Linked DNA regions of Homo sapiens: regions 2, 3, 4, 5, 6 and 7 are each linked to region 1. Evidence: fine-mapped expression QTL. A gene starts in region 1. Each other region holds a variant in brackets. All regions are shown on one strand. Distances are between the middles of the regions. Region 1 holds the start of GOLM1 (golgi membrane protein 1). Region 2 overlaps NAA35 (N-alpha-acetyltransferase 35, NatC auxiliary subunit). Region 3 overlaps GOLM1 (golgi membrane protein 1). Region 4 overlaps GOLM1 (golgi membrane protein 1). Region 5 has its middle 78 kb from the start of NAA35. Region 6 overlaps GOLM1 (golgi membrane protein 1). Region 7 overlaps GOLM1 (golgi membrane protein 1).

Region 1 (4,066 bases):
CCCTGTCTCAAAATAAATAAATAAATAAATAAATATTAAAGCCTTTAGGGCTGTTGGGATGGAATAAATGTATTTTGTATGTGAGAAGGATATGAACTGGGGGTGGTGGGGGGCATAGAAGCAGAATGCTATGGTTTGAATGTGTGCTCCATAAAGCACGTGTTGAAAACTGAATCTCCAGTGCAACAGTGTTGGGAGGTGGGGCCCAAAGGGAGGTGTTTAGGTCATAAAGGCTCCACTCTTATAAATAAATTAATGCCAATTATAGAGGGTTTGAGGCTGCAAGTTCAATTTCACATACACCCTCTTGCCCTTCTGCCTTCCACCACAGGCTGATGCAGCAAGAAGGCCCTTGCAAGATGCCAGCACCTTGATATTAGACTTCCTAGCCTTCAGAACTATGAGAAATACATTTCTTTTCTTTATAAATTACTGAGTCTGTGGAATTGTGTTATAGCAACACAAAATGGACTAAGACATTAAGGAAAGGATGCTTAACAGGCAAAACATGGATGCTTCCTTCAACCAACCACTGTAGCCCCTTGCACATTGTTTAATCAAAACCCATCCAATTGAATTTTCAGGGCCAGCAACTGATTAGCTTTTTTATAAGGAATGTAAATTATGTATATAGATATATATAAAACTGCATCTTAAAATTTTCAACTTTTGTCATAAAGAATCTAACGAAAAGGACTAATTCATCTTCAATTAAAATATAGCTCATTCAGCCAGCTGCCTTAGCACCTAGACATATGGACCTGTTCCATAAAGTGTTTAAGAATCACTGAGTGAGTCGCTAATTAGTTGCTGATAAATGAGAGACTAATGGAGACCCTCCTTAGAGCCAAATGATATAGAAGTTACAGTCCACCAGTCTAAGAATGTAAACTATACTAAGAGAGCTAAAATGGGCAAGAAAGGGAATTTCCTGTACCTGTCCCCGATTATGGTTATTTAAGCTCACTAGAAGATCAAAGTGACACAACTTAAGTCTGCAAAACCAGGGCTGACATCTGATACAGCCTCAGCTTCTGAATGCTTTGGTCTGACCCTACAACAGTTTAACAGTTGCAGATAACAAAAATATCATTTTGGAATATAGTAGAACATTCCTCTAAAGGGGTCATGTATGGTCAGCTTCTAATTCAGCTAAGAGGTTTTAGCTGGTAAAGATACGTTTCCTGCAGTTAAGAAGCTCCATGCTCAGGTAGCAATAGGGTATCTTGATCACCTTTTTTAAGGTGACTCTTTGTTCTGGTTAAAATCAATTTCAGCTGTGAGCATTCCTTTAGGTGTTCATGTATTTACTTGTTTTTTTATTGTGATTTGAGAGAGGCGCAGAGGAAGGAGTTTCCTTTCCCAGACACCAGAGCTAGGAAGACATGAAGACATGATTCTAGGAAAACTGTTCTCAATCTTGGCCGTATACTGTATTAGGATTATCTGGGAAGCTCAAAACAAACAAAAAATATCAAGTTCACTTTGAACTCTGGAAGTGGGACCCTGGTTCCTAAATGCTCTAAAAGCTCCCCAAATAATTCTAATGGATGGCAGGTGCTGCCAGAGTTAAGAACCATTGCTTTAGAATTTTCTAGCATGGTTTCCCTGTAGGTCACTAGTTTTGTGGCATTCTCTCCGGGAGGTACGGCCTCATAGGGCTTCTCAAACATCAGTGCGCCTGAGCGTCATCTGAGGCGCTGTTTCAAATGCAGCTGCCCGGGCTATAAGATCACACCCGAAGGCGTCCGGGAATCTTCACTTTTTCCGTTGCTAGCAGTGGAAGGGTCACAGACCAAACACTAAGGCCTGAGCGGTGACAACCGAGGCGAGATGATGGTCAACAGGGAATGCCTCGTGGGAGAAAAAAGACAATTTTGTGAGTATAAGCCCCCTAAAAACCTGTTTTTCGTTCGCTTCCTTCTCTGGGCAGTTTTGACCCGACGACTTTTATAAAGAAGGTAACGTGAGTGTGGCGCTGGGTGCGGTTGGCTGTTCGGGAACATTCCCTCGGGGCGGAACGTGGGATGGGGGCTCCCCCCAGGTACCCTTTCCCCACAGCCGCTTCCCCGCTCCGCGTCGCTGCTCAGGCGCCAGCTCCCGCGTCGGAAGGGGCGATGGGGTGGCCCGGGGGAAGGGGCAACGCCCAGCGGCGAGAACTGGGCGCACGCTGGCGTTCCTGCTCCCGCCGAGGGGCGGCCACCGGCCGGGGCGCGCGCACCGTGGGGCCGGGAGTCCGCGCGGCCCCGGCAGCCCCTGCCTCGCTTCTCCGCGCTCGCGGCGCCGCCTCCTCCCTTCGCGCCGCCGGCGCTGCTCGGGGGCGGGGCCTTGCCGCTGCGGAGGCCGGAGACGCGGCGGCGCTGGACGCGGAGGCGCTGGGCGCACGGCGCGGAGCCGGCCGGAGCTCGAGGCCGGCGGCGGCGGGAGAGCGACCCGGGCGGCCTCGTAGCGGGGCCCCGGATCCCCGAGTGGCGGCCGGAGCCTCGAAAAGAGGTGAGTGGGCGGCGCGCGGCCCCAGGCTGCCCGAACCGCGGTCCATCGCTTCCTCCCTCCTTTGCCCAGGGCCCGTACCCCGCGCGCCGAGACCTCGCGTCGGTCCCCGGAGCCTCCCCGCGGCTTGCGCCGGGGCTGCAACCTTCGCTGGCTGCGCTCGGGGCTGGCTCCGCACCTTCCTGCACCGAGTAGCCCGCGGCTGCCTGGGCCCCTCGGCTCGCTCCCCAAGACCGGGCGCGCGGCCCCCTTGCCCTGCGATGAGGGGCCTCGCGAGGATTCCCTGCCCTGCAGTCTCAGGCGATGCGGGGCCTGTCTTTTTGTTCTGAGCTTTGTCACGCGCGTCGGCATCCAAAGTCAAAAGCGTGCACCCCCTAAGTCGCACTAGTTCCAGTTCTGCAGCGTGATTTGCACCAGGCGCGGGAGGCTGGCCGAGCCGCGAGTCTCTCGGCTCCCGCCGCCTCTTCCTCCCCTCCAGCCCCAGGCGCGCTCCGGCCGCCCTGGGGTCCACGTTGCCGCTGGGCCTCGTGGCTGGTGACCCCGGAGCTTGGGCTCCGGGTCCTCCCGCCGCGCGTCCAGAGCGCGGCTGCATCCCGTTCTCGTGGATGCTCGGGGTTTTCTCGCATACCTGTGTTTCCACCTTTGCCAACGTGGAGGATCCACACAACTTTGCCCTGCTGTAAAAATCATATCCCATTTAATATTTTTAATGATTTGCTTTTAAGAAACAAAATGTGAAGAATAACAATTTTGATGAAATTTTTTAGCAAAATTTAAGAATTATTATATTTGAAATACCATGATGATGCTGGACAATTTCAGATGTCCCATAGCCAGATTTGCAAAACTAAACTTGTGTGACTTTCACGATTTTGAGGTTTTCTTTGTCTGATTTGGGGTCCCTAGGCCCTACATTATGCACATTATTGAGGAACATTTCTAGGGCTGGATTAGTGAGATACACAATAACCTGATGAAGTATTTAGCAGCGCTTGAGTGGCTTTGTTTAGCTCATGGCCATCAGGTTGGCTCAAATCTCAGTTTTAGTATTTCTGAATTTTGGAGGGCATGGGACAATCTCTTGTCAGTTTTTGTGGGTCTCCAAAGGCATCCTAGCTTCTTCCAGTTGTGTTATAAAAGATGAAGCTAAGCTCATTACTTTCTTTCTTAATAGAAACTAGTAACTTGCTAAGACTTACTGTTTTTAGGCCAGACACTCAATTCTTAAGGTGTCAGTGAACAAAAATTGAATTGTTAGGATGGTTAAAGAAAAGAGGTTAGCTTTTAAGATACATTTTGTTCTCCTATGGAGAGGTTATCCAATTTTCACATTTTTTTTTAAAGTTGGTTTTACAGGAAAACGAAAGAAATGAGAGGAAAGTAGTGCTGAGGGTGGGGCCAGGAAATTGTGGTGACTTGGATATTAAGGGCCAGGGATACCATCTGCTTTCTAATGGCTGGTTTAGGTCCAGTTATTGATGGGAAATGAAAAGATTTTGCATTTACATTCCACCCGCTGTTGTTGTTGTTGTTGAGGGCTGGGCAGAAACAACAGTTAGGACAGCTGACCATAGCA
Region 2 (4,066 bases), 110 kb after region 1:
ATCAAACTGTCCATTTCATTTATTTATATCAGGGTAGAATAATGGCTTTATCTTTTATTCAATAAGTTATGATCTGTCAGAATTATTTACTTTGATGCTTAAGTTTTTGCTAATTTTGACCACGTGAGATCCCCTTCAAGTTCTTTTCTATATCCAACTGATATGTTCCTATTATTTTATTCATTTATTTTTTATTATTTTTTTTTTTTTGAGACGGAGTCTTGCTCTGTTGCCCAGGCTGGAGTGCAGTGGCACAATCTTGGCTCACTGCAAGCTCTGCGTCCTGGGTTCACGCCATTCCCCTGCCTCAGCCTCCTGAGTAGCTGGGACTACAGGCGCCCGCCACCACACCCGGCTGTTTTTTTGTAGTTTTAGTAGAGACGGGGTTTCACCGCGTTAGCCAGGATAGTCTTGATCTCCTGACCTCGTGATCCGCCTGCCTTGGCCTCCCAAAGTGCTGGGATTACAGGTGTGAGCCACCACGCCCGGCCCATCCACCTCTTTTAGAAGGACACTTATGATATTTGGGTACAGCCAGACAATCCATGATCACCCCCTCATCACAAGACCCTTAACAATCACATTTATAAAGATCCCTTTCCCAAATAAAGTAATATTTACAGGTTCTGAGAAGTAGAAATAGGACCTTGATAGCTTTGGGACCATCATTCAGTCCACTACAATCTCCTATCATTGACATGTTAGGCCACCATAACCTCCACTCCATTTGGCACTCCTCTAGAGATGCTCTCCTCACCCCATCTAAGCTCTGATACCCCACAACAGGCCACCTTTCTGCACAGAAGCTTTTCATCAGTGTGCTTAGGCTACAACTTCCCACATGGAGCCACCTTTCTACTTTTCTCTTCCTGCTTAGGCTTTGACATCTCATGCCATCCAGTCCTCCTGGACAGCCTCTTCCCCCCACTTATGATCTGACACCCCATACCTGGGAAACCTTCCACAATGACACCTTTTTCAACATGCTTAGGCTCTGAAACCCTGTACTTGGTCACCCACATGCACAGATGCCCTCATTACCTGGCTTGGTCTCTGACAGCCCTGCACACAACCACCTCCATGAATTTACCTCAGGTTTCACCACCCTACTCTGCCAGGCTCCATTAACATGAGCCTACCCTGCCTGGACTCCCACACCCCATGCCTCTCTCTACTCCCTGCCTTTATACTCCAAAACCCTGTACTAGACTGCCTTCCCATAGACACACCCTCCTCATCCTACTTAGGCTCCTGACATACAGTGCCAGGTTGTTCCCACATGGTCCCCTTCTCAATCCTGCTTAGGCTCAGGCACCCCAAGCTCAGCTACACTCCTGTGGAAATACCCTTCTCCACTCACTTTAGAAGCAGTGAATCCAGTTAGGCTACCGATTCACAGTGATGCTCTCAAGGTATCTTGAACTATTCCAAACTCCTGCTCTAGGTTTATCTCTTTGCAGATGCCCTCCCCATTCCACTACCATTCTACATGGACACTTCCTTACTCCACACAGACTCTGATGGCCCATGCTAGGCCTCACCCTGCTACAAGTACACTCCACCTACCCACATGGTTACAACACCTTATGTCAGGCTACTCCTATCTCCCATGTGGACACCATCATCATCCCTAAGGCAGGCTCCAAAGTCTCGCTCTAGCGCACATGCCCATTGTGCTCAGGCCCATCTCATGGCATTAGGAGTGAATTTTTTCAAGAAGAGAAGGAAAGAAGAGCAAGAATCAGAACTGAGTTTTGTTATCACTAAATTGGAAATACATGGTTCCCTTTGTTATCTTTAAGATCATTCATTCTTTGCTGTATTTTCCTTCTGATAATTGAGAAGTCTTTTATTAATTTTGTATCTACAACTTTATTAATATCTCTAAAGTTCTATTCCTTCAGAAAGGTAGCTGTTAATCTTCTTACCAATAATAAACAATGATAATGCTAAAGACCTCCCTTTACCTTCCTTTGGTCATTGCTATGGTTTGGATGTGTTTTCGTCCCCACCAAAATTCAAGTTGAAGTTTAATTGCCAGTACAACAGTGTTGAGAGATGGGGCCTAACAGGAGGTGTCTGAGTAAAGGGGG[C/A]AGATGTCTCCTAAACAGATTAATGCCTTCTCACTCTCGTGAGACTGGATTAGTTCTCACAGGTACGGATTAGTTCCCATGATAGTGTATTGTTAAAAGGGAGGTTCTTTCTGTTTGGTCCCTCTTTCCACATGTCTGCTTAACTTCTCTGCCATGTTTTGACCCAGTGCATGGCCTCACCAGAAGCTGAGCATGCACCATGAATCTTGAAATTCCCAGGCTGCAGAACCATGAGCTAAGTAAACCTCTTTTAAAATAAATCACCCAGTCTCAGGAACTCTGTTACAGCAACACAAAATGAACTACGACAAGCACCAAACTTGAATAATCTTATCTCTATCGCCATTGGTTACCTCCACATGTTGAAATATACCTATCTTTATATTACAGATGATTTCTCAGCTTTAACCAGTATCTCTGGACCCCTGCATATAAAAGAAAATTAGTCTTCCCCGTTACTTCCTGACTTTGGTTAATTACTTTTATATTGTCAAGATTCTTGACAGTTATGTTACATTATATTTAGTAAAACCAATTTCCACCGTTTTAACCACAGTTCTACAATGAAACAGAATCAATGCTCAATGCCTGTCCTTCTGCCACAGCTTTTCCATTTATGTCTCAGTAGGCTGAATTTCATTCCTGATTTCAGTCTTTCTCCTCCAGGAAAAAGGTCTTTGGAAAAATATTCCAAGTTCTTGCTAGTTTAAAAATATTTCTACGAGTGTCACTCAAAGACCTTTGGAATGGGTGTAAAACTCTTAGGTCACAGTTTTTTTGTTTTGTCTTTGTTTTTTTTTGTTTGTTTGTTTTTTGTTTTTTGACAGAGTCTCACTCTGTCACCCAGGCTGAAGTACAATGCTGCGATCTCAGCTCACCATAACCTCTGCCTCCTGGGTTCAAGCGATTCTCCTGCCTCAACCTCCCGAGCAGCTGGGATTACAGGCGCCCACTACCACGCCCAGCTAATTTTTCTATTTTTATTACAGACAGGGTTTCCCCATGTTGGTCAGGCTGGTCTCAAACTCCTGACCTCATGATCCGCCCACCTTGGCCTCCCAAAGTGCTGGGATTACAGGCGTGAGCCACCACGCCCAGCAGGTCACAGTTCTTTACTTGAGGACTTTGAAGATATTGTTACACTACTTTCTGTGTTGATGTTGATGTGAAGAACCATGAAGCCAATATAATAGTTGCTTTAGATCTTAATTTACTAGGCTCTATTTTACTATTAATAATTCTTTATCAATTTATCCTGGAACACATTATACTCTTTCAATGGACACTCATGGATTTAATTCTAGTTTCTTCTAGAAATGTCTAACATTTTTTTCTGTTCCATTATACTGTTCACATCTTAAGGGACGCCAATCATATGTATACTGAGACTTCTTTTGCTATTACTTTCTCATCATACTTCACATCTCCTTTGCTCACTTCTGCTTCGCTTAGTTTTTTCCTCAATCCTGACCTCCATGTCCTTTTTTTTTTTTCGAGACGGAGTTTCACTCTTGTTGCCCAGACTGGAGTGCAATGGCGTGATCTCGGCTCACTGCAACCTCCGCCTCCCAGGTTCAAGCGATTCTCCTGACTCAGCCTCCTGAGTAGCTGGGACTACAGGCATGCACCACCACAGCTAATTTTGTATTTTTAGTAGAGATGGGGATTTCCCCATGTTGGTCAGACTGGTCTCAAACTCCCGACCTCAGGTGATCTGCCTGCCTCGGCCTCCCAAAGTGCTGGGATTACAGGCGTAAGCCACCACGCCCGGCCCTCCATGTCCTTTACGGCTTTTCAGCAATGTCTAGAATGCTTTTGCTATTTTCAATGAGATCTCTCAGGATTTTTCTCTTCTACTGCTTTCCTGAACTCTGCCTGGTCACTTTTACTCCCTTTCTATTATTCATTACTTCTTCTTTTAGTCTTAATATTTTCGCTTTCTGCTCTTGTTCTATAGAGGCCATTTTTAAATA
Region 3 (4,066 bases), 66 kb after region 1:
AAGTGCTTGCTCCAGCGGACCCGATGATCAGGTCACTCAGCAGGATACCCTTTTCCCTTTGTACCTTGTCAAGGTAATTTAGTCCAGGTGTTTTTTTTTTTTTGTTTTGTTTTTTTTTTTGGTAAGCTACTTTTCCCTTTGTCGCGGTTCTGACGATGAGCTGCAGGCACAGAAAGGCCTGCAGTCTGTGGCTGAGGTCACAAAAGGAGCTACCTGGTTGTTCTCCTGTGTGCAGCCCACCCCACCCCCACTCCTTGGGAAGGCTCTGGGAATTGAGTGGCACCAGGTTTTGCTTTTTTTTTTTTTTTTTTTTTTAAATCAAATGCTGGCAAGGTCACAGCTAACTGTGTTCTGTGCACAGAGGAAACCAATGAGATCCAGGTGGTGAATGAGGAGCCTCAGAGGGACAGGCTGCCGCAGGAGCCAGGCCGGGAGCAGGTGGTGGAAGACAGACCTGTAGGTGGAAGAGGCTTCGGGGGAGCCGGAGAACTGGGCCAGACCCCACAGGTGCAGGCTGCCCTGTCAGTGAGCCAGGAAAATCCAGAGATGGAGGGCCCTGAGCGAGACCAGCTTGTCATCCCCGACGGACAGGAGGAGGAGCAGGAAGCTGCCGGGGAAGGTGGGTGTGAAGTTTCGGGGGCCGCTGTGGACTCCCTTCCACCAGACACCCAGCCCACCTCCATGTCCTTCCCAGCACCAACATATCACCCTGAATTTTACCAAACAGCAGTCCACAATTTGCCAATTCCTTTTCGTTTGAAGGTTTCTTATTCGTTATCAAGAGGGAGGCAGGAAGGAAGAGCAGCATATGCTCTAGAACTCGAGGTTTTAGATGCAATATTGGCAGGGAGTCGAGGGGACCTTGCAAGTGGATGGCCTGCAGATGGGTGCTTAGCATCAAGTGGACGCCCCCTCCTGGCAGGCAGGCCACATGCCCCATTTTTGTATGTCCACCGTCGTGCAGTGTCTGGTGCCATTTAGACAATCAGTGCCTAGTGAATGAATGAAGGAAGGAAGGAAGGAATATTGGGTAGATGAAGGTTAATGCATATGTGAACATTGAGAAAAAATGACATGTGAATCACTCCTTTTTGGTTTGGTTGACTCTTTTCTTTTTAAAGAAATAAAGGGTAGGAATTGGAGATCAACCGACTATTCCAGGATGTATTTCAGTCCCTTCAGATATGGAAAATGTCCTTCCCACCTGAGCCAGGAACACTTCTGAGGACATGACACCTGCGCTCTGGGGTGGACCAAGTCACAGAAGTTGGAGAATACACTTATTTGCAGAAGTTACCTTGATTCCATTTAAATCTAATTTTCACTTCAGTGTCTTACTGAAGAACGTGTCCTTCCAAGTTCCAGTTAAAGAATTGGATTTTGTCAGCCTCCCCCTAAGTATCCCTGCTCTGTCCTTGTGTTCCGTGCTCACCCAGCAAGAAGATGCTTGTGGTGTGTGAGGCGGGGAGATCTCACTGGCTCGCTCAGCCTGTGGCGCTCCAGTGTCAGACCCCTCAGCGGCTGGTCACAAAGCGTAACAAAGGTGGGCCTGAGATGCCACAGTGCCTGCAGGATGCACCTGCTTCTAGATGCAGGTGTGGTGACCTCATTTGAAGAAACGCGGTGGACACATAGGCCTGTGCAGTTTCCACCCCAGGCAGTGAGCCAGAGAAAGAGACTAGAGCTGCTTTTCCAGGTGTGCACTTTTAAAAAAGATTTTGTTTGGCCGGGCGCAGTGGCTCATGCCTGTAATCCCAGCACTTTGAGAGGCCGAGGTGGGCGGATCATGAGGTCAGGAGTTCAAGACCATCCTGGCCAATATGGTGAAACCCCATCTCTTCTAAAAATACAAAAATTAGCTGGGCATGGCAGCACGTGCCTGTAATCCCAGCCACTCGGGAGGCTGAGGCAGGAGAATCGCTTGAACCCCGGAGGCGGAGGTTGCAGTGAGCCGAGATTACGCCACCGCACTCCAGCCTGGGCGACAGAGTGAGACTCCATCTCAAAAAAAAAAAAAAAAAGATTTTGTTTACCAGCCTGCATACACATATAAAATATGTAAGTTAAACCCTT[T/C]GAGTAGGTCTCTTGAAAGCCTTTTGTCCTCATCTTCTCTGGCTGCTGCCCACTCCAGGGAAGAATAGAGTAATGGGTGCTCTCATGCTCTAAGTATGAGGGACACCTTCTCACGTGTCTCACAGTGGCAGCTCCATTTCCTCTCTCCATTCTAAGGAGATGCTGTCATTAGCTGTAGATATCCGTTCCTTCCTAAAACAGTGGCACCTTTCTTTTATCTTGAGTTGATTATCTCTTTAAAAAATTGAGATTTGGGTTGTTAGTTTCTCCATGTTCTGCCTAGAATGCACCCTTGTATTTAGGGCCATGCTGTCTGTAGATTCCGAGTCCAAGTGGAGTACACATAATGCATGTGCTTGTCCTGGAAGCCAGCCCTTGCGTCCCTACCATTTCCAGAGAGGCAGCAGACAGATCTGATTGTGAGCAAGTATGGCTAACCCCCAGCACTTGTGCTCTGATAGTCCTGTGACATCAAGACAGAAATGATGTAGCTTATGTTTTATGTGCTAATTTTACAGGGAGAAACCAGCAGAAACTGAGAGGAGAAGATGACTACAACATGGATGAAAATGAAGCAGAATCTGAGACAGACAAGCAAGCAGCCCTGGCAGGGAATGACAGAAACATAGATGGTAAGAATGGGGCCTACATCGGTGACGAGGTCACCTTTCATTTCTCTTTCCTGGTCCTTCACCGTGATTATCCAATGAATCCCCAAAATTATATTGTAATTAATGGGTCATTTCAAGGAGATCGTCTGTTCTTTAGGAGCTTTTAAACCAGGGGCAGTGGAGGGAAGTGAGGGTTGAGAAGCCCAAGGTGATGAAAACCATTCGGAAAGTCTGCATCGTTTCTAGAAACATATTCAGTGTGGCTCAACTCTTTAAGTAGGATGATTTTTCAGTGACATTTAGGGATTTCCCAACAAAATGGCTAGGTCACTACTTGATCAGTCTGCCTCCCAGATGAGAAGCCCCAGTATGTGCATAGAGCTTCCAAGCAGCTATGAAAGCTGCCCTTTGTATTATTATTTTGAATTTTTGAAGAGTCCAGGCCAGTATCTTGTAGAATGTATCAAACTCTGGCCTTGTCTGTTTGCTTGTGGTGGATTCAGGCTGATGAATTCTTGCTTCTCCCCAGGAGGCATAACAGCAGGTGGTCCTACAGGTGATTGGTTGATCCCTTAGCTAACATGGTGCCCACAAGGTCTCAGAAGGCCATTTTCCTTTTGATATTAATACGTCATCTAGAAGAGGATGCTTTGAACTTGTGTAGCTTTACCATCCATTGATGAACATTGCCCAAGTGGTGACATTTTACATGCTGCCATCACAGCACATTTATTACCTGACATTTTTTAAGGAACTCCTCTCCCTCCTCCAACACACTTGTTTGTTTTGGTATCACTATGGACTCATAGTATTCTTTCTTAAAATTCATTTTTCTGGGCCAAGTGTGGTGGCTCACACCTGTAATCCCAGCGCTTTGGGAGACCAAGGCAGGCAGATCAGCGGGTCAAGAGATTGAGACCATCCTGGCTAACACGGTGAAACCCCGTCTCTACTAAAAAGAGAAAAAATTAGCCAGGCGTGGTGGTGGGCGCCTGTAGTCCCAGCTACTCGGGAGGCTGAGGCAAGAGAATCGCTTGAACCCGGGAGGCAGAGGTTGCAGTGAGCTGAGATCGCACCGCTGCACTCCAGCCTGGGCAACAAGAGTGAAAATCCATCTCAACAACAACAACAAAAGAATCCAAGCCATGTGACTGTAGTTTCCCACAGCCTGAATACTGCTGATTATAGAGTCATGGGGGAGTTGAGTGAGTTCGCCTGGTCTCTGTTTTCTGTAGAGTGGCAGCTATACCCAGAGACTTGATGAGACTCAGGTCCTGGCTCAAGCCCTCGGTAAGGTGAGTGGTGGTGTGTTCTTTGGTTCTTTCATCGGGAGGCACGTCATGTCTGGCGTCTTTTTTTTTTTTTTTTTTTTTTTTTGAGAT
Region 4 (4,054 bases), 25 kb after region 1:
GAGTGCTAGGATTACAGGCATGAGCCACCGTGCCCGGCCTGGTTTTCTTATGTAGGAATATATGACTATACTTTCTTTATTAAATTGTGTAACTGTGTGAGTTACTAATATCTCCTGTCCCAGAGTGCATCAAACTTTGGCCTCTATTATTAACTAGAAAAATTTGGCTTTTTTTTTTTTTTTTTTTTTTTTTTTTTTTTTGAGATGGGGTTTCCCTCTTGTTGTCCAGGCTGGAGTGCAATGGCGCCCTCTTGGCTCACTGCAACCTCTGCTTCCCGGGTTCAAGCAATTCTCCTGCCTCAGCCTCCCAAGTAGCTGGGACTACAGGCATGTGCCACCACGCCCAGCTAATTTTTTGTATTTTTTAGTAGTGATGGGATTTCGCCATGTTGGTCAGGTTGGTCTCGAACTCCTGACCTCAGGTGATGTACCCGTCTTGGCCTCCCAAAGTGCTGAGATTACAGGCATGAGCCACCGCACCTGGCCTGAAAAATTTGGCTTTTATAATGCGTGTACCTCTCTCTCTGGAGTGGCTAATTTATTGGAAGAATGTTGTAGCTCAACTTCCATTATCTTGAATTGTCTCAGAAAATGAATTATTTCCAGGAAGGGACTCAGACTTTTCTCGCATAACTGATTTAAAATTCAAGAAGTACTTTTTTTGTTGTTTAATTTGCAGAGTACTTTCCTATATTTGCAAGCTCATATTTCTTCTCTGGGAATTGTGCATAATGTTGTTGTAATAAAGTGCTTCTTTATGTTTCTTCCCTTTTCTTACTGGTGAGATATGCTTTTTGTGCTCCTGAAATCCCCTTTAACCTCATCTCTCAAAAAGAAAAAGAAAAAAAAGAGCATCAAGTAGTTATTTGAAAAGAGAATCTGTTTCCACAGTTTTTCTCTTTTAGAATATGCGATATAAATGTCTTTTCATTTTGGTGAGCAAGGGTGGGTTCTCACATCAAACCTTAGCTGCAGGAGGATTTTAGCTGTGGTTTGGTGGTAGGAGGCATGGAACTTGTGAGTCAGGCAGACCCGGGTTTAAAGTTCCCTCAGCTGTGTGATTTTAGGCAAGTCACTTAAATTCTCTGGATCTGTTTTCTCAACTGTCAAGTGGAAATGAGAAAGGAATCTCACAGGGTGCCTGTGAGGATTGAATGAGATAATATTTATAAAGCGTTTAACCCAGTGCTCAACCTAGAATGAAAGCTCAGCAGCTGGTGGTTGGTATTATTACACCTAATTGTACCAACGGCAGTCGAGGCCATGATCACAGCAGCAGTGGTGGGCGCAGTCGTAAGCCACCGCAGCAGCGGTGATAATGTTATCTCTTTCTGTATGGACTTTGTCTTAGTCTGTTTAAGGCTGCTATAACAAAATATCATAAACTGAGCAGCGTATAAACAACAAGTATTTATTCTCACAGGTCTGGAGGCTGGGAAGTCAGAGATCAAGACGGGGCAGATTCATCTGGTGAGGGCCCACTTCCAGGTTCATGGATGCCTTCTTCTTGCGGTGTCCTTGCCTGGTGGAAGGGGCAAGGCAGCTCTCTGGGGCCTCTTTTATGGCACTAATCCCATGTATGAGGGCTTGACTCTCCCAGAGGTCTCGGCTCCTAACATTATCGCCTCCATTTGGTATTTGGTGATTTGGTTTCAATGTGTGGATTTTGAAGGACACCCACACTCAGACCGTAGCAGATTTTTTTTTTCCTCCCAAATTGAAACCATGAAACCAAATTGTGCTAGCTTTAAAAAGAGTTAGGAAGACACTGAGGGAGGTGGAACCAAGAGCAAGCAGTGTGGTGGGGCTATGGAAGGAGAACGATGACAGGCACCACACCAGCCACAGGAGTGAACGTTTCCTGAGCCTGTGCTTGGCCAGACGTGAGGCTGAGCATTTCACAGGGACTGTTTCATTAATTCCTCCCAGCAGTCTGACGAGATTGGGGCTCATATTATTAGTGAATGGAAGCTCAGAGAGTTAGCAGCTGTCACCAGGATGACACCTAGACCCTAGAGAGCCCCCAGGCCAGCCTCCACCCCTGCACACTGGCCGCCGCCTTCCTTCAGTGCAGACACAACTTCTTGGCTGCCCGCACCTGAAGGGCGCCAAGGTGGAGGGGAAGGGGGATAGAGGAAACCAGATGGGCTTGAGTTGGTCAGTGCTGAAGCTGGTGATGGGTACATGGGAGTTCAGCATGCTAGCTTGTTTACCTTTGTCTGCATTAAAGACTTCACAGTAGAAACTTTAAAAACATCTTCTTTAGATCTCCTTGCTTCCAAAGACTGCTGTGTTCTAACTAGCTCTATTTTGGCTACATGGATGGGCTTATCCTTCACCTAAATACTTTTTTATACATTGT[C/T]TGTCTTTTTTTTTTTTTTTTTTTTAAATCTTAGAAGGTTAGCATTTGTGGTTAGAACTGGAACAAGTCTCCTTAAAAAAATTTTAAAGAACCATGGTGATTCTCAGCCATGGGAGGAGCTGGGGTGTGGGGACCTGTGGCTGGGGGTGGTTTGCAAATGACACCTGACCTAGAGATTTCCCTGCCTGTCTCTGCCAGCGTTCCTCACCTCAAGCAGTCACTGTCACTCTGGGTAGGTGTTATATCCCTCAAGTTGGGGGCTGGACAAAAGCTTGGAAACCAAACCTGTCATCAGGGAAAATGTGAACAAACACCTGTTCATAATGAAATTACTGCTTTGGGTAGGCCCTGTCTGATAGAATTTTCTATGATGGCAGAAATGTTTATAGTACAGTAGCCACCAGCCACATGAGTCTAATGAATACCTGAAATGTGGCTAGTGGGACTGAAGAACTGAATTTTATTTAATTTTATCGAACTTAAATGTAAATAGCCAAATAATGGTCACATTGGACAGCACGGGTTTGTGTGGTTGGCAGAATGCTGGGGAAAACCTTGTTTGGGCCTCTGAGTCATAGGGAGCCATGTTCCTCAGTGGAGCGGAGGGCAGAGTCTGAGTCTCCTGTGGTTCCTTGGTGCCTTTCCCCCTTCTCTGTAAGGTTCGGGAGCAGTGTGGGCAATTGGGCAATGGAAGATGAAATCACCTTCAACCTGGGGAGTTGTGCACCCCCCTGAAAGTAAGTCTCTGCAGCTTGCTGGTGTTCTGATGCAGAATGATCTGTTCAGCTTATCAAATCAGCTTTTGTTTACACCCCAGCTTGGGGTTTTGATCTTATTTGTTATGGAAGTTGTTTCAGAGCAATCCGTCCTCACCTGGCTGCTCGTGATAACCACCTGCGAGCTTATGAACAAAATACAGATTAAAAATATACACTAGATCAGACTCTCTGGATGTTTGGGCTCAGAATATAGAATTTTTAAAAATATCTCACATATATATAAACATACACATATTCATACATGTACTTTTTTTTTTTTCTAAACTTCCAGACCACTGTGATGCAGCTAGCTGATCTAGAAACCGGTGATTGAGATCAAGTGTTTTGCAGAATTACACTTTTAAAAATAAAAATGCATTGTCAAGGTTATCTTTTTTTCAGTTTCCTTTTTACCCTTCTTCAGTGAAGTGATTTAAAAATTAAAGGGCATTGTAATTAAGATGTATGCAGTCATGCGCCACATGTGATGTTTTGGTCAATTATGGACCCATCAAATTCTAATCTTTTCTATGTTCAGATACACAAATACTTACTACTTTTACTGTATCTTTTCTGTGTTTAGATACACAAATACTTACCACTGTGTTACAAGGCCTGCAGTATTCAGTACAGTCCCATGCTGTACAGGTTTGTAGCCTGGGAGCATTAGGCTGTAGCATACAGCCTAGGTGTACAGTAGGCTATAATATCCAGGTTTGTATAAGTGCATTCTATGATGGTTACACAAAGACAAAATCTCATAATGATGCATTTCTCAGAGCCTATCCCCATCATTAAGCAATGCATGACTGTAATTCATCTAAATGTAATTTGATAGAGCTGTTACAAAGTAATTGAGTTAATGCTTGTTTTTCTGAGGGATTTCTTTCATCTTTACCCACATTTACTGGAATCCTTGAACATTTTTCAAAGC
Region 5 (4,066 bases), 240 kb after region 1:
CTTTGTTAATCTAGCTAGCAGTCTATCCATTTTGTTTATTTTTTCAAATAACCAACATTTGGTTTTGTTGATCCTTTGTGTGAATTTCATTCAGTTCTGCTCTGATTTTAGTTATTTCTTTTATTCGGATAGCTTTGAGGTTAGTTTGTTCTCATTTTTCTAGTTCCTCTAGAAGTGATGTTAGATTATTAATTTGAGATCTAACTTCTTGATGTAGGTGTTTAGAATCATAAACTTTCCTCTTAACACTGCTTTTACTAACAAAGAAATTCTAGACTTAAATTGAACACTTGACCAATTGGACATAATAGATATCTAGAAAATACTCCACCCATCAACCATAGGATATATATTTTCTTCACATGGGAAATACTCAAAGATTGACCATGTGCTCAGCCATAATGCAAGTCTCAAAAAATTAAAAAAGATCGAAATTGTACCAACCATACTCTTGGACCACAGCGGAAAATAGAAATGCCAAGAAGATCTCTCAAAACCACACAATTACATGGAAATTAAGCAACTTGCTCCTGAATGACTTTTGGGTAAACAATGAAATTAAGGCAGAAATTTAAAAATTATTTGGAATAAATGAAAACAAAGCCACAACATAACAAAATCTCTGGGATGCAGCAAAAGCAATGTTAAGAGGGCTCTGTGGTTTTGACAGTGGCAGCTTCATTGCACAGCTGTAGCTCTTGCAAGATGGCCCATCCTCTCCAGCTCTGCACTATCTGTGCTCCGGTAACACTATTTCCTCCCCTGCATCTTCAGCCTTAGAAATGGTAACAGAGTCCCACTGTTGCAAGCTCTAGGTGGCTCAATGTTCTTTGCTTGGTCCTTTCATGAAGGAACTCTTTAAGTAGTTCCCTCATTAAAGACTTTTCATTTGATATATTTAAGCCTCATGCCTGTAATCCCAGCACTTTGGAGGCCGAGGCAGGTGGATCACCTGAGGTCAGGAGTTCGAGACCAGCCTGGCCAACATGATGAAACCCTACCTTTACTGAAAATAAAAAAAATTAGCCGGGCGTGGTGGCGTGCATCTGTGATCCCAGCTACTCAGGAGGCTGAGGCAGGAGAATCGCTTGCACCCGGGAGGTGGAGGTTGCAGTTAGCTGAGATTGTGCCACTAGACTCCAGCCTGGGCAACAAAGCGAGACCTTGTCTGACCAAAAAAAAAAAAAAAAGAAAAAAGGAAAAAAATAAAAAAAAAGAAATATTTGAGCCTAATTTTATTTATTGCCTGGACCTCAAAAAATACAGCTCACCTTATTTACATTCTATTTTCAACATTAATATTGTCTTTCTTAGTGTATTTTACACTATTCTACTTAAAGATGGAACTGAATTATTTAAGTCAACAAATATTAATTGAGCACTTACTGTGTGCAAGGTACTATGTGACTATTTCAACATAGTGGTTATACGGTGGTAATTGAGACAATAAGGTCTCTGCCCTCATGGGGCATGTTTTAGTCACTTTGGGCTGCTAAAACGAAGTACTATAGACTGTGTGTCCTTGATCAAGCAGCCCTCAGAGTCTAGTGGAGGCAACAGATGTACATAAATGGCCAGCTGAAGACATATCAAGGGAACTGTGTGGTTACAGGCATAATTCTAGGTGCACAAAGACACTTAGTATAGGTCATTCATTCATTCATTCACCATTTACTAAACCTTATACCTTCTACCAGATCTTTAGGAGGAACTATCTCTTTATGATTATTGTGATTCGAGTGCAAAATAATTAATGCATCTCCAAAAGCGAAATCTTCGTACAGCTACCTGCCAATTCTCTACCTTTGCTATAAGCATCTTTTCTGCCTGAGACTCTCCAAAGAGAGCTCCCTATTTGTTTTTTCCATGGCCTCCCACATATATTATCTGAGGGTTATGAAACCTCTCCCTCTAGAGAATGCAAATGATACTCTTACAGATTAACAGAATGTTAGCTCTGAAAGAGATGTTATTGTTTCTCATAAAAGTTAATATTTGTCTTCATATCATGAAAAATGAATAGGGTGGTTTGTGATTAGAAATGGCAGGCTCAGGACCTCCAGCTGCCCTGAGGGCTGAGGGCTCAATACTTCTGCATATCTATAGCCAGAGCAAATACATTACTAACAACTTTTACTGCACAGGCACCTACCAATCAGAATGAGCACAGACACCGATGTCAGACAGGGGCATCCAGATGACTGGCAGCCTACCCATAAGCCATTCCTGTTACATTAATGTTTCTTGGCCCATCTGCTTAAAAATACTACCTTAGAAGCCAATAGACACATGAAAAAATGCTCATCATCACTGGCCATCAGAGAAATGCAAATCAAAACCACAATGAGATACCATCTCATGCCAGTTAGAATGGCAATCATTAAAAAGTCAGGAAACAACAGGTGCTGGAGAGGATGTGGAGAAA[T/C]AGGAATGCTTTTACACTGTTGGTGGGACTGCAAACTAGTTCAACCATTGTGGAAGACAGTATGGTGATTCCTCAAGGATCTAGAACTAGAAATACCATTTGACCCAGCCATGCCATTACTGAGCATATACCCAAAGGATTATAAATCATCCTGCTATAAAGACACATGCACATGTATGTTTACAGCAGCACTATTCACAATAGCAAGGACTTGGAACCAACCCAAATGTCCATCAATGATAGACTGGATTAAGAAAATGTGGCACATATACACCATGGAATACTATGCAGCCATAAAAAAGGATGAGTTCATGTGGTTTGTAGGGACATGGATGAAGCTAGAAACCATCGTTCTGAGCAAACTATCACAAGGACAGAAAACCAAACACCGCATGTTCTCACTCATAGGTGGGAATCGAACAATGCGAACACTTGGACACAGGGTGGGGAACATCACACACCAGGGCCTGTTGTGGGGTGGGGAGACGGGGGAAGGATAGCATTAGGAGATATACCTAATGTAAATGACGAGTTAACAGGTGCAGCACACCAACATGGCACATGTATACGTATGTAACAAACCTGCACGTTGTGCACATGCACCCTAGAACTTAAAGTATAATAATTATTTAAAAAAAAAAAACTACTACCTTAGAAGGCTGGGCACGGTGGCTCAAACCTGTAATCCCTGCACTTTGGAAGGCTGAGGTGGGCGGATCACCTGAGGTCACGAGTTTGAGACCAGCCTGACCAACATGGAGAAACCCGTCTCTACTAAAAACACAAAATTAGCCAGGCGTGGTGGTGCATGCCTGTAATCCCAGCTCGTCGGGAGGCTGAGGCAGGAGAATGGCTTGAAACCGGGAGGTGGAGGTTGCGGTGAGCTGAGATCGCACCATTGCACTCCAGCCTGAGCAACAAGAGTGAGACTCCATCTCAAAAAACAAACAAACAAACAAAAAAAACTACCTTAGAGATTGTTTAGTCCAGCCCTTCTGTTTATTTTTCAGATCTTTTGTTTTACAAAAGAGAGACCTAAAGTCCTTAGAGGTGACAAGACCTACCCAAGGGCATATACTGAATCTGGGTTTCTCCCCACTAACTCCATCTAGAGATGGCACCTCTTTATTACTGTAAAGTCCTTCAGAAAGCTCTTTGTCCCAACTCTCTGATCCTTTTTTCATTTTCTTCCTTTTGGCTGCAAAGCCCTCCATTCCATTTATCCACTCCCATTTCCTTCTTCCCTCTTCGTAACTTCCTATTCTTCCTTCAAAGCCCTCAGTTCTAACTAATTAGCATACTGAAGCTGAAGCAGCATATTTTGGGGTGGCACTCGAAAGCCAGAACTGACCTTAGGTTTCTCATTCTAAGAAAATGTATGTAAATTGTTCAGCACAGTTTCAGCAAATGGTAATAAATAATAGCAATTATTATTATTATTGTTCTTTTCAGCTCTGTGACTGTGAATAGGTTACTTAACATCTCTGCATCTAGTTTATTCATATGTAAAATGAGAAACTTCCCCAGGGTCTTGCCCACAATGCTGACAGGCTCTATGAGGGTCGTCCAGCAGTCACGTAGGGAATTGGTGGGGGATGCTCTCACAGTGGTCAATTAAACCATGGAGGGTAGAATTTGAGA
Region 6 (4,066 bases), 48 kb after region 1:
GTGATGTGTGTGGTATGGAGTGGTGTGGTGTGATGTGGTTTGGTATGGAATGGTGTGTGGTGTGGTGTGGTTTGGTGTGAAGTGTGTGGTGTGGACTGATGTGTGGTTTGGTGTGTGTGGTGTGGAGTGGTACGTGGTGTGGAGTTGTGGCGTGGTGTAGTGTGGTGTGTGGCCTGCTGTGGTTTGGTGTGGTGTGTGGTGTGGAATGGTGTGTGGTGTGGTCTGGCGTTGTGGTGTGGAGTCATATGGCGTGGTATGTGTGGTGTGGAGTGGTGTGATGTGTGTGGTTTGGTGTGGAGTGGTGGGTGTGGTGTGTGGTTTGGTGTGAATGTGTGGTGTGGAGTGGTGTGTGGTTTGGTGTGGTGTGTGGTGTGGTGTGTGTGGTGTGGAGTTGTGGCATGGTGTAGTGTCGTGTAGAGTGGTGTGTGGTGTGGTCTGGTGGTGTGTGGAGTCATATGGCGTGGTGTTGTGTGGAGTGGTGTGTGTGGTGTGGTTTGGTGTGTCGTGGTGTGGTTTGGTGTGGAGTGCTGTGTGGTGTGGTGCGGTGTGAGGTTGCTGATTAGCCCTCTGGGTGCCCAGAGCCTCTGCTGTGTCGGGCAGGAGGAAGGAGGGCCTGGCTGGCCCTTTCCTGGAGGAGCAGCGTTTCCTGGGCTGGAGTGGGGTCTGGACCCGTTGGCTTTTGCTCGGGTCCAGAGGCGGTGGTGGGGAGCGGATCTCTAGGTCGGCCTGTTCCTTTTCAGCAGCAGACATGGGAGGGCCCAGCCTGAGCGCTGAGTGCGAGCTCCTTCCCTGACAGCAGCGCTGGGTTGGGGACAGGCCCCATCATTGGTTTGTATCACATCTGGCTGTCAGGCTGAGGTGTTGGTTTGGGTGTTTCATGCGAGTTTATCTTCGTTGCAGGCGGTTTTGGTGAATAACATCACCACAGGTGAGAGGCTCATCCGAGTGCTGCAAGGTAAGTTCCGCTCGCTCCTCCACACCAGGCACTGGCCTTTGAGGAGGAAACTCCCTTTCTCTCCTTCTCTAGGCCCAGGTGGGTCTCCATTATAATCTCATGGCGGATAGTGTCATGAGTCATTGAGCAATCTTTATTCTTTTTGCCTAAGTCTATCTCCTTAAGAGGCTTTTCCTTTTAAAAAAAAATATTGCCAAATACATTGCAAGCTGTTAGGTACAGAAGAGTTAAGAGTGTCACTCATGAATGTGTTAAGAGATAGTATTTATGATAGGTACATGTTCTGTTATATATACATATGGTATACATGTGACCTGTTAATTTGGTCATGCTGAATTTAGATTGTCTGCATGAAACTTAGAAAAACTGTCCAGCCCAATTTAATTCCCCCTCTTTGCCGCTCTGACTCAACTTGGCAGCTGGGGATTGGTCTTCCTTTGAGTCCTTCTGAAGCAGCCACAGAGCAGGAAATGGGGTGCTGTCCTTTGTCGGGGGCTCCTTCCACTGTGACAGGAGTGACAGGAGGGTCAGCAGGGTCCATGCTACTGGGCTAAATCATCTGTTGGGTTGAATAATTTTTACTCTAAAAATGTGGTTACTGGGAAGTTAAAAATTCCTTATATGACTTGCATTATAATTCTTTTGGTCATTGCTGGTTTCGAATTCTAGTTCTAAGTCAGGTTCTAAGAATATTAAAAAGTCTTATGTGAAAAGGGGTCACTTTGTGAAATGTGTTTGTGTAACCCTACGTTTCCCACAAAGTTGAAGAGGCTGCCTGGCTGCGGGGGTGGGAGTTGGGGGGTCTCACATAAAGGTTCAGTTTGACAGCGGTTTTGATAGAGCATACATGTCAAGTAACTCCACCAGAGTCAACACAGGGAGCATATTCATCACCCCCAAAAGCTTGCTTGTGCGCCGTGGTGATCCACTTCCCTCAGGCAGCCTCTGGTCTGCCATGTAGACTAGTTTGCATTTTTAATAATTGGGTGCGTGCCCCAGATTCATAAAGCAAGTCCTTAGAGACCTACAAAGAGACTTAGTCTCCCACACAATAATAATGGGAGACTTTAACACCCCACTGTCAACAGTAGACAGATCAACGAGACAGAAAGTTAA[C/A]AAGGATATCCAGGACTTGAACTCAGCTCTGCACCAAGCAGACCTAATAGACATCTATAGAACTCTCCACCCCAAATCAACAGAATATACATTCTTCTCAGCACCACATCGCATTTATTCCAAAATTGACCACATAGTTGGAAGTAAAGCACTCCTCAGCAAATGTAAAAGAACAGCAATTATAACAAACTGTCTCTCAGACCACAGTGCAATCAAATTAGAACTCAGGATTAAGAAACTCACTCAAAACCGCTCAACTACATGGAAACTGAACAACCTGCTCCTGAATGACTACTGGGTACATAACTAAATGAAGGCAGAAATAAGGATGTTATTTGAAATCAATGAGAACAAAGACACAACATACCAGAATCTCTGGGACACGTTTAAGGCAGTGCATAGAGGGAAATTTATAGCACTAAATGCCCACAAGAGAAAGCAGGAAAGATCTAAAATTGACACCCTAACACCACAATTAAAAGAACTAGAGAAGCAAGAGCAAACACATTCAAAAGCCAGCAGAAGGCAAGAAATAGCTAAGATCAGAGCAGAACTGAAGGAGATGGAGACAAAAGAAACCCTTCAAAAAATCAATGAATCCAGGAGCTGGTTTTTTGAAAAGATCAACAAAATTGATAGACCACTAGCAAGACTAATAAAGAAGAAAGGAGAGAAGAATCAAATACATGCAGTAAAAAATAATAAAGGGGATATCACCACCGATCCCACAGAAATACAAACTACCATCAGAGAATACTATAAACACCTCTATGCAAATAAACTAGAAAATCTAGAAGAAATGGGATAAATTCCTGGACACATACACCCTCCCAAGACTAAACCAGGAAGAAGTTGAATCTCTGAATAGACCAATAACAGGCTCTGAAATTAAGGCAATAATTAATAGCCTACCAACCAAAAAAAGTCCAGGACCAGGCAATTCACAGCCGAATTCTGCCAGAGGTACAAAGAGCTGGTACCATTCCTTCTGAAACTATTCTAATCAATAGAAAAAGAGGGAATCCTCCCTAACTCATTTTGTGAGGCCAGCATCATCCTGATACCAAAGCCTGGCAGAGACACAACAAAAAAAGAGAATTTTAGACCTATATCCCTGATGAACATCGATGCAAAAATCCTCAATAAAATGCCGGCAAACCAAATCCAGCAGCACATCAAAAAGCTTATCCAACACAATCAAGTTGCCTTCATCCCGGGGATGCAAGGCTGGTTCAACATACGCAAATCAGTAAACATAATCCATCATATTAACAGAACCAAAGATAAAAACCACATTGATTATCTCAATAGATGCAGAAAAGGCCTTTGACAAAATTCAACAGCCCTTCATGCTAAAAACTCAATAAACTAGGTATTGATGGGACGTATCTCAAAATAATAAGAGCTATTTATGACAGACCCACAGCCATTATCATACTGAATGGGCAAAAACTGGAAGCATTCCCTTTGAAAACAGGCACAAGACAGGGATGCCCTGTCTCACCACTCCTATTCAACATAGTGTTGGAAGTTCTGGCCAGGGCAGTCAGGCAGGAGAAAGAAATAAAGGGTATTCAATTAGGAAAAGAGGAAGTCAAATTGTCCCTGTTTGCAGATGACATGATTGTATGTTTAGAAAACTCCATTGTCTCAGCTCAAAATCTCCTTAAGCTGATAAGCAACTTCAGCAAAGTCTCAGAATACAAAATCAATGTGCAAAAATCACAAGCATTCCTATACACCAATAACAGACAAACAGCCAAATCATGAGTGAACTCCCATTCACAATTGCTTCAAAGAGAATAAATACCTAGGAATCCAACTTACAAGGGACGTGAAGGACCTCTTCAAGGAGAACTACAAACCACTGCTCAATGAAATAAAAGAGGACACAAACAAATGGAAGAACATTCCATGCTCATGGATAGGAAGAATCAATATTGTGAAAATGGCCATACTGCCCAAGGTAATTTGTAGATTCAATGCCATCCCCAT
Region 7 (4,066 bases), 37 kb after region 1:
CAACAGGCCCCGTGACAGATGGGATAGGTGCGGGAAAGTGTGAATTGAGCAGAATGGAAGCAGGTCAGTAAAATCCATTGAAAATTTGCTGCCCTGAAAATAAAAGTGTTTGTCTCAGAAGACTTCTAGTCTTTTTAGATTGGAAATTCTCCAGTTTGTCAATTGGATTCAACCTTCAAATACAGGTTTATAATTAAACTCAAGTAATTTGCTTCCCACACTTAAAAATACATTTGTAGGAGAAGCAGCAAACATGCCATTCAGGTAGATGTCCTTCACTGCAGACTGTGCCTCAGTGGGTGTCCTAGTGCTGGGTCCTCACCTCCCACCTCCAGGGAGGGGCCTGAGCCTGTCATGGGATGTCCTGGACCTCAGGAGAAGACTCAGATGCCTATTTGATTCAGGACGTGGTTTGATTTTTAAACATGCCATGGACAAGTTCCACATGGAAAGCATTGTCGTGCAATGTGAGGTTGCCCACGATGGTTAGCGGCTGACCAGACGAGGCATGGATTTCATGTGCATTGATCTCTGTTCCTAATGGGACAGAACCAAATCCTGCAGGTGTCCTCGCTCTTGGCCTTGGCTTCATACGCACTAGAAAGAGCGTTGGCGTGTTTGATTGCCATAGAAGGCGTAACGGAGGCTTTGGGTTTTGCTGTTGTGGTTGGCTTTTGTCTTGTTCTCTCTTCACACAGAAAATTGCTTGAGTGACTTGGAATTGACTCCGTTTACCTTCTGTAATTCTTAACCCAACCCAAGACAGGCGTTTGATGGGAAATACGTAAAGAAAATAGGAGGTAGCTGTTTTTTCACTTACCGTCTCTGGCAGGGATCTGCAGTCATTCATGTTTAAGAACAAACAGTAAGTAGGGTCTGTTAGGTGCCTTGACTGTGACGCTGTAACCTGTACACTTGGTTCAGTTTTAGTTTCTCTTTCATCCCCAAAGGTCTGTGTACGCCTTTTTACCTGTCTGCAGAAAGTCAGAATGTACAAAAGTGTCTCCTCTTCCGCAGGTGGGAGCAGGGAAGCTGCTAGGATTCCCGTTTGAAAATGGAAACCCCCAGTGCCCTCAGGTGGCTCAGCCCTGGGGTGCCCATTGAGATTGGGAGTCTGCAGCCCCAGGCCTCCAGCCCTTGCACAGGGCATTTCCTGGCTGGTTAAAGAACAGCCAGGGAACGAATATCCAGATTGCTGGTGCTGTGTTGTAATCCGGCATTCTTCTTCCTCTAAAAACGGAGCTGGAGCTTTTCAAGCCCCCGCTCCTGGGTCAAGCCCTGTTGGCAGTGTGTGGGGTGCTCCTCTGGTTCGGCAGCTCCTCCCCTGCCATCTCCTTAAGTGTTCAGGAGTGAGAGCAGCGGGAAGAGCTGAGGGGCAGCTTGGGTGGTGCTGCAGAGGGGACAGACCAGTGTGAGCTGCTTCAGGGGCAGCCAGGTTCCCTGGCAGCTGGGTGATGAGGAGACCTTCAGAAAGATCCAGGGTCAGGGACTAAGAAGACAGGCGCTCGTCCACTGCTAGAGAAGCCTCAAAGTGCATTCTGGGGTTCCCACTGTCCTTCAGGTTTGGATCCTCCTGGAAGTTTTATTTGACCCAAGTCACGTGTAGGTTAGAGGCACAGGGGCAGGCTGCTACCAAAGGAGACAGTGTAGCAGGTTCTCAGAGGCAAGGGCAGCCCCCCCCGTTTGCTTCTCCTCCTTTTTCCTTCCTCCTGCCTCCCCTCCCTCCATCCTTCCTCTTCCTTTCTGTCCCTCCACCCCTCTCCCTTCCTTTGTCCTTTTCCTCCCTCCATCCTCCTCTTGCCCTCCTCCCCTCCAGACCCTGTCTCTCTCCTCTTCCTTCCATCCCTTTCCTCCATCCTACTCTGTCCTCTTTTCTTCCCTCCTCCTCTCCCTCCATTCTCCCTCCTCCTCTTCCTCCCTCCTCCCCCGTCCTCCCTTCCCTCTGTCCTCCTTTCTCTCCCTCTCCTCACCATCCTTTGCTCTCTCCTTCCTCCCCTTCCCCTCCTCCCCATCCTCTCTCCTCCCTCCCCAAAGCACCTGCAGTGTGCCCTGTGCAGGAGATGCTGGGGGAGGGTGTGAGCCAGTCTTGGGTTCAGGCCCCCTCGCCATCAACCCTGTGCTTATGTCTGTGATGGCCACCACACCTCATGGACCTTGTTCTGCCAAGCTGGGCACCCGGGTGACCCCAGGGCGGGTCCTGGGAGCATCCTGCACTCTCCCAGCGAGGTGCTTTCCCACACCCGCCAAGCTGCAAGGTGGATGGGGTGGGAGGATGTTACCTTCCCTGTGACAACACAGGGATGTGTTGGCAGGAGCTATTCTGGGCGTGTAGCAACTGTGTCTGTGTGTCCTA[C/T]GTGTTTTCCTGGATAGATGGTGTTTTCTGAAGCTTTGTAGAAAGTTACACTTAATCTCCCGACGCCCTTCCATTTAAACTTGGTGACTTGTGCACACTGTCCCATAGCTGCAGGTCCAGACCCGCCTTTCTGCCCATCTGGGTCCCCTGCCCTGAAGCCTCCTCAGCTGCTCTCTGACCAGGATCCTACCATTTACGCTGACATTTGACTCTATCCCCTAAACCTTTAGCCACTCCTCTCCTCCTGTTGGTATTCTCACACTCAGTTCAACTCACACTCACAGACACTCATTCACACTCTGACCCATGCCCCCATATTTGGGTTCCCACTTGAGGTGTCTGTAAGGTGCCCCTTTAAATAAAACTCAGCAGGCCACCCTGCTTAGGTTCCACTTTGGGGAAACAGAGGCACAGAGAAGTTAAACGAAGCGTCCAAAGTCAAGGAGCAAATTAGCAGCAGATCCCAAACCGGATGCCACAGTCTCAGGTCTTCAAGAAAATCTCTCCCATCCCGGTCTTCCCTCTGCTGCCCTCTTTCTCTGTTACTCGTTTTTCTTTTCTTTTTCCTCCCTTTATCCTCATTAGTGAGCTTCGAAGGCCATTTGTCATAGTTGATAATTGTTGATGGAGCTATACTATGAAAAGAAAATTGCTTAATTTTAGGAGTGAAATTACAAATGAGAAATACTGCAGCAAAGACCTGCCCTTCTAAAAGTTCTTGAATCTACCTCAAATTTCTCCAGACAACAGGTTTATCTCAGCATCTTCTAATTCACCTTTCTTTTCCTCTAAAACCAGCCTTGAAGTTAAGATTTTTAAAAAATTGTACTTGGCAGATTTAATTATCAATGTGGCAAGCTTATGTGTGCCTGTGTGTGTTGGCTGATTGTAGAAAACCGTAAACATGAAAAGGTAGACAGAGTGACCCAGTGAGCCCCCACACATCCAGTGCCAAGCTTCAGCGATTACAACTCGTGCCGTTTTAACCATGACTATTTCAGCACACGTCCTGAAAAGGTGGGATTGTCTGTCTCTCATAGCCACAATACCATGATCATACCAAAACATCCAGGAATTCCTCATGTCAAGTATTCAGTGTCAGTCACAACATTTCTGTGTTGTGTAACTTCTTCTTCTTCTTCTTTTTTTTTTTTTTTTTTTTTTTTTTTTTTTTTTTTTTGAGAGAGTTTCGCTCTTGTTGCCCAGGCTGGAGTGCAATGGCACAATCTCGGCTCACCGCAACCTCTGCCTCCCAGGTTCAAGCAATTCTCCTGCCTCAGCCTCCCAAGTAGCTGGGATTACAGGCATGCACCACCACACCCAGTTAATTTTGTATTTTTAGTAGAGACGGGGCTTCTCCATGTTGAGGCTGGTCTGGAACTCCTGACCTCAGGTGATCCACCCGCCTCGGCCTCCCAAAGTGCTGGGATTACAGGCGTGAGCTGCTGCGCCCGGCCTGTGTGTTATGTAACTTCTTAACCCACAAAACATAATCATGTCATCTTTAGGGGCTTGTGGACTGGACTAGTTTCCTCATCACTTTGTGCCCTTGTCCCTATGGGAACATGCATCCAGCGACCCACCATTTGGCTCAGTGGTGGCTGTAGGCATGAAGCATTTGGGAGTCACTGCTTGTCTTGTTGTTTGTGTGTGTGAATGAGTGTGTGAGTGTGTAATCTTAGCAGGATGCCATAAATGACTTGTTTGCAAGTC

Evidence for each region. PIP is the estimated chance that this variant, and not a neighbour inherited with it, causes the effect. A credible set is the group of variants that fine-mapping cannot tell apart.
Region 2: its variant is the best candidate, but not a certain one, in a credible set for the expression of GOLM1 in whole blood (TOPMed, PIP 0.78).
Region 3: its variant is the best candidate, but not a certain one, in a credible set for the expression of GOLM1 in gastroesophageal junction (GTEx, PIP 0.70).
Region 4: its variant is the best candidate, but not a certain one, in a credible set for the expression of GOLM1 in aorta (GTEx, PIP 0.81).
Region 5: its variant is the best candidate, but not a certain one, in a credible set for the expression of GOLM1 in whole blood (INTERVAL, PIP 0.58).
Region 6: its variant is the best candidate, but not a certain one, in a credible set for the expression of GOLM1 in monocytes (BLUEPRINT, PIP 0.72).
Region 7: its variant is the best candidate, but not a certain one, in a credible set for the expression of GOLM1 in whole blood (INTERVAL, PIP 0.62).

Annotation. Positions count from the first base shown.
Region 1 is chr9:86,097,838-86,101,903 of GRCh38, reverse strand. It overlaps GOLM1 (golgi membrane protein 1), which reads left to right and starts at 2,346. Exons shown (of 10, transcript NM_016548.4): 1 at 2,346-2,493. RefSeq lists silencers at 2,135-2,454, 2,465-2,564, 2,725-2,774 and an enhancer at 2,405-2,905.
Region 2 is chr9:85,988,318-85,992,383 of GRCh38, reverse strand. The region is part of intron 11 of NAA35 (N-alpha-acetyltransferase 35, NatC auxiliary subunit); the gene reads right to left. Among named protein-coding and RNA genes, the nearest start is that of NAA35, 49 kb to the right of the region's middle. The variant C/A (reference allele first, on the strand shown) is at 2,094.
Region 3 is chr9:86,031,921-86,035,986 of GRCh38, reverse strand. GOLM1 (golgi membrane protein 1) reads left to right here. Exons shown (of 10, transcript NM_016548.4): 8 at 362-619; 9 at 2,592-2,705. Among named protein-coding and RNA genes, the nearest start is that of GOLM1, 66 kb to the left of the region's middle. RefSeq lists an enhancer at 1-77. The variant T/C (reference allele first, on the strand shown) is at 2,074.
Region 4 is chr9:86,072,569-86,076,622 of GRCh38, reverse strand. The region is part of intron 3 of GOLM1 (golgi membrane protein 1); the gene reads left to right. Among named protein-coding and RNA genes, the nearest start is that of GOLM1, 25 kb to the left of the region's middle. The variant C/T (reference allele first, on the strand shown) is at 2,363.
Region 5 is chr9:85,860,755-85,864,820 of GRCh38, reverse strand. No RefSeq gene overlaps it. Among named protein-coding and RNA genes, the nearest start is that of NAA35, 78 kb to the left of the region's middle. The variant T/C (reference allele first, on the strand shown) is at 2,426.
Region 6 is chr9:86,049,426-86,053,491 of GRCh38, reverse strand. It overlaps GOLM1 (golgi membrane protein 1), which reads left to right. Exons shown (of 10, transcript NM_016548.4): 4 at 901-955. Among named protein-coding and RNA genes, the nearest start is that of GOLM1, 48 kb to the left of the region's middle. The variant C/A (reference allele first, on the strand shown) is at 2,072.
Region 7 is chr9:86,060,344-86,064,409 of GRCh38, reverse strand. The region is part of intron 3 of GOLM1 (golgi membrane protein 1); the gene reads left to right. Among named protein-coding and RNA genes, the nearest start is that of GOLM1, 37 kb to the left of the region's middle. RefSeq lists an enhancer at 810-1,726. The variant C/T (reference allele first, on the strand shown) is at 2,354.